Regions from separate parts of the Homo sapiens genome. Here region 1 is linked to region 2. A link means that fine-mapping ties the variant in region 2 to the expression of a gene that starts in the linked region. Tissue or cell type: testis. Region 2 holds a variant in brackets; the other region holds the start of a gene. All regions are shown on one strand. Distances are between the middles of the regions.

Region 1 (2,743 bases), 800 kb before region 2:
CAGGAATAACGCATGGGTCCTATTGGGAAGAAAAAGTTCTCTAGAAGTCAGGCTTAAGCAGAACTGCAGCTCCGGGACGGATTAAGTCAGGTAAAGGTAACACTCTGTGCAGAGACATGCAGACAAAACCGAGTGTTGAGTAAGTAACTCGCCTGTAAGTGTTATGCTGCCTGAAGCTTCTCGGAGCGTCTGAGCAGCAAGGTGAACAACCCTCAGAAACCGGTCGCGCTGCCAGTATTATCGCTAACCAGTGGCAGCGAGCCCCTTTGTTTCTCGGCAGTTGTAATTGTAGTCTGGTTTGTAGGTGGAGCTGTGCGCAGGCGCACCTAGAACCAGGTGACCTTGCACATGCGCTGTATGTAACACTGAAGCCAAAAGCGAAATGATTGAGGGCAATTTTTCTTTTCTGCTTCCGAAATGTCCCTTTCGCGAATCCAGAGACCCTGACCGTCCCCATTTCTGGCTAGGGATCTTATAATTCTTAAAATAATACCCCCTTTCCTTCAGGGCCTCTCTAGTAAGTCGGCTGCCAATACCCAACATGGCGGGAGGCCCTGCGCCGGCTCAGTCTGCCTATAGGTGCAGGACTTGGAGGGGCGGGCCCCTCCCAAAGGGCGGGAGTTTGGGGGGGCGGGGCCTGGCCCTCTGCCTCGGGGTGGGCTCCGCCCCCGTCCCCCGCAGGGCCTTAGCAGCGGCTGCCGCAGCTCAATCGCGGAGCAACTAGCCGGGCGTCTGCGGGAGCCGAGCGTGGTGAGGTGGGGCCTCAGGGGCAGGTGGGAGGTGCTCGGGTTAACCGTCCGAGGCCCGGAGACCCGCCCGTCTAGGGCGCCTGAGGGAATCCCGTTCGGGCAGCGGCCTCTTGTTACCCGGGAGGAACCCGAGGCCCAGAGAGGGGCTGGGACGCGTCGTTAGGGCCCGGGGCCCGCTTGCCTCAGCTTCTTGCTGCCGCCAGCACGCTAAGCTCCAGTCGGCGCCGAAGGAGAGCTTCCCGACCCTCGTGTCCAGTAGCCGCAATCCCAGGCTGGGAGGGTGAGGCGCCGCGCTCTGCCGCCCCCCCGCCCCTCGCTCCCTGTGTCCTGGCGGATTTGCACGTAATCTATCCGAAAGCCCAGTCCCACCCGCCACCCGACTCTGGAGCTCCCATTCTTCAGGACCCTGCTGAAGTATCGCTTCTCAGCCGCCTTCTCCAGGCGCAGCTGCATTCGCTTCTCGGTTTTTGCACTCGCTGTGCACCGAGTTACTTTCCCGGCCCCTCGTTGACACCGTAAGCTCGTTCGTTAGATGTTATGCCTTGCCTTTTTCATCTCTAGATCCCAGGGCCTAGCACGTGATGATAATAGTCATGGCTTACTGTACGGAATGATCACAAATTGTCAGGTGCTACTGAATGCATTACACATAAGGGCCCATTTATTTATTTATTTAGAGACGGAGTTTCGCGCTTGTTGCCCAGGCTGGAGTGCAATGGCGCGATCTCGGCTCACCTCAACCTCCGCCTCCCGGGTTCAAGCGATTCTCCTGCCTCAGCCTCCCAAGTAGCTGGGATTGCAGGCATGCGCCACCACACCCGGCTAATTTTATGTTTTTAGTAGAGACGGGGTTTCTCCATGTTGGTCAGGCTGATCTCGAACTCCCGACCTCAGGTGATCCGCCCGCTTCGGCCTCCCAAAGTGCTGGGATTACAGGCGTGAGCCACCGCGCTCAGCCAAAGGCCTATTTAATCTTCCCAACAATCCTATGGGGTGAGTTCTTTCTATAGCTTCACGTTTTACCCATGAAGAAACTGAGGTATTCATAGAAAAAGTAATTTGCCAGGAGTCCCACAACTAATAAGTGGATGGAGCTGGGAAACTGTCCCCAGGGCATTTGATGACTTGACTAGATTGCCTTTGGGTTTAATCAACGTCTGTTGAATTGATCTTTACTTTGGCCCTGGGAGTTATTGGAGGCTAGGCTTGTGATCAGTATTTTACCGCGAAGGCTTAGAAAGGAGAACTGGTCCCAGATTTATAGAGGTCACAACAAAACCAAGGCTACTGGTACGCCCTCTGTTCCTTTAGTTCTTCTATCTTTCTTTGCTCCTTTTCGATCAGAAAGCTGCAGACATAGGTGTCATTATCGCTCACTATTTAAGAAGTGCCCCTCACAGAGCTGTGAGTTCGTAGTCCATGCTTTAACTAATGTAATGTTCATGCTTTAACAGCTAATGTAATGGAGAGAGTGTAGAATTTGGAATCAGATTGGGGTTCAGTCATTGCTCTGCCACTGACCAAGCTATAAGTTATATGCCTCCCCCCACTTTTTTTTTTTTTTTTGAGACCTGGTCTCAGTCACCCAGGCTGGAGTGCAGTGGTGCGATCTGGGTTCACTGGAACATCCTGTCTCCCAGGTTCAGGCGATTCTCCCGCCTCAGCCTCCTGAGTAGCTGGGATTACAGGCGCCCGCCACCGTGCCTGGCTAATTTTTGTATTTCTAGGAGAGATGGGGTTTTGCCATGTTGGCCAAGCTGGTCTCGAACTCCTGGCCTCAAATGATCTGCCCAACTCAGCCTCCCAAAGTGCTGGGATTACAGTTGTGAGCCACCACACCCAGCCTGTTTTTTTGCTTTTTATATAGGTAATAGAGCTGTTAGCATTTTGCAAGACCATTGGTGATAATATGGATCATGTTACCTAATGTCCTATAATAGTCAGTAATAATGGGCACTTGTTATAAACCAGGCTGTGTTTTAGGTAGGAGCTGG
Region 2 (2,500 bases):
TAAGAAATGTGAAAACAGATTAATTATTACTTAATACTTACAGTATTTTTGGAAGGCAGACGCTTTCGGAACAGAACCAGTGGTGTTGCTGATCTCACGCTCCCTTCCAGCTCTAACACATCTACGTGTGAAGCTATTGGCAGGACCTGGCCTGATTTAAAAACCCTCTCAAATGCAGGCCTCATGGGGTCTATCTCTTATTTGCAAGGCTGGCTCATCCTATTAGCAGAATCAGCAGAGGTAGCGACTTTCTAACCCCTTCCGCTGTCCCCATGACAAACCCTCCCTGCTGTGAGCCTCCCTCGTTCCCATCGAATTTCTCACCACTTGAGCAGTGGAAGAGTTCCCCACTGTTGACTGCCTCTTACCATTATCTCCCCACCATCATCCCCTTGTAAATATTCCTTAATATTCCCAGGGCACTGGGACATGCTGGTCTCTCCAACTAATCAGACTTTGGCTTGACTGAGATGCTGTCCCCTGCTGACATGGGGGCTGAAAATGCAGAGTGAATGCCACGGTCAAGGCCAGCACTGAGTCACGTCCGCCAGATTGAAATCAGGACCATACTCCTTTCAGGGGAAGGCTCACCTGAGCTACCCAGTAATCCGGGAGCCCGTGTGGTCCTGCAGCTCTGCAGACGCTGCTTCTCTTTTCAGTCCCCCGCTGACTGTAGATGGCACTTCCCCACCTCAGATTCACTGGATCTGGCCTGGACAGGCTTTGTTTCTGTTAGAGCTTTCTAGACCCTTCCATCTTCAGAGCATCCAAGGTCTCCGGTACTGGCTAGTTATCCCCCAACCCTGGGCTCCTGGACGGGCCTCCCTGCTGAGAGATGGGCTGAGTGGTGGGATGAGAGTGGGAAATAATGTCAGCTGCTCACTACTGGGGGGCAGGGTGCGCAGGCATTCATCTGGCACTCAGCTCCCCCTGTCCCCTGCCCCACCACCACCCCACCCACCCCCAGCCTGCCAGGCCTACTCTCATGTGTCCTGGATCTGTGTCGACTCCCTCGATTTCTCTGGAAAATAGGAATCCTGAGCCTTGTCAGGCTGACAGCTGCTTGGTGGGAGGAGGCAAAAAATAGGGGCGTCTCAGTTGCATTGTCCAGTGTCAGGTGGCCCTGCCCTAAAGAAACTCAACATTTCCCTCTTCCCTGGGTCTTTGTCTTGCTGCTTCTCTCTCCTGATTTCTCCCTCTTCCCTCTGTCCACTTCCAAAAAGTGCACCTGGCTCAGGTCTGGCCTCTCACTTCTAAGGGATGACAGATGGAGTTACATCTTCAGGAGAGCCCGCCTGCAGTGAGGAGCGTTGGAGAAAAATGTAGGACCTTCACCCAAGAACAGAGGTGGGAGGGCTGGCCTAAGGAGGAGGTCTCCACATACTCGAGAGTGTAGAGTGGGGACCCGGGGAGAAGCCACAGGGTGGCTGAGGTCAGCTCCATGCCTGTGGCACTCAGGGACCACAGTAAGCTAACATCCTCGTGGGGGAGCCACACAGTAAG[C/CAT]ATGCTAAGTAGACTGCAGAGTGGGCCCATCCTGAGAAATGCTCCTGGGAAACAAAATAGAGCAGGGTAAGGGGAACGGAGAGTCCTGGCAGGGTGAGGGGAGACGCTGCATTTTTTTTTTTTTTTTTTTTTGAGACAGAATCTTGCTCTGTCGCCCAGGCTAGAGTGCAGTGGCGTGATCTTGGCTCACTACAAGCTCCGCCTCCCGGGTTCAAGCCATTCTTCTGCCTCAGCCTCCCGAGTAGCTGGGACTACAGGCACCTGCCACCACGCCGGCTAATTTTTTGTATTTTTAGTAGAGATGGGGTTTCACCATGTTAGGCAGGATGGTCTCGATCTCCTGATCTCGTGATCCGCCCACCTCAGCCTCCCAAAGTGCTGGGATTACAGGCGTGAGCCACCGCGCCCAGCCGAGATGCTGCAATTTAAAGGGGGTGGCATTTGGACAAAGATTTAAAGGTGAGCAAGTGAGCCATGTAGGGGTCTAGAGAGTGTTCCTGCAGAACAAACGGCGAAGGCAAAGGCCCTGGGGCAGGAGCCTGTCTTTTGTATTGGAGGAGCATCAGGGGGTCAGGGTCAGTAGGCAGGAGTGGGGTGACCAAAGACGAGAATACTAGGAGAGGAAACCAGGGACCAGGTTGTCCAGGGCCTATAGGCTGTTGTAAGACCTGTCCATTTTATCAGCGAAATGGGCACACGGTTGAGGGTTTCAAGCAGAAGCGTGTCATGACCTGACTTCCATGTTTTTGCTTTTTTTTTTTCGAGATGGGGTCTCACTATGTGGCCCAGGCTGGGGTGCAGTGGCTATTCACAGGCGCTGTCACTGCGGCCTACAGCCTTAAACTCCCAGAGTCAAGTGACCCACCTCAGCCTCCTCAGTAGCTGGGACTACAGGCATGAGCTACACCCAGCAGCTGACTTCTGTTTGTAACAGGATCCCAAGCTGCTGTGTCGGACACAGACTGCAGGGGGTAAGTAAGGGTGGAAGCAGAAGGAC

The links. PIP is the estimated chance that this variant, and not a neighbour inherited with it, causes the effect.
Region 1: CEP250 starts here. The variant in region 2 is fine-mapped to the expression of CEP250 in testis (GTEx, PIP 0.94).

The regions. Positions count from the first base shown.
Region 1 is chr20:35,454,488-35,457,230 of GRCh38, forward strand. It overlaps CEP250 (centrosomal protein 250), which reads left to right and starts at 1,111. Exons shown (of 35, transcript NM_007186.6): 1 at 1,111-1,264. It also overlaps a transcript of GDF5 not described here. RefSeq lists enhancers at 46-95, 356-505 and a silencer at 526-905.
Region 2 is chr20:36,259,104-36,261,603 of GRCh38, forward strand. No RefSeq gene overlaps it. Among named protein-coding and RNA genes, the nearest start is that of AAR2, 24 kb to the left of the region's middle. The variant C/CAT (reference allele first, on the strand shown) is at 1,504.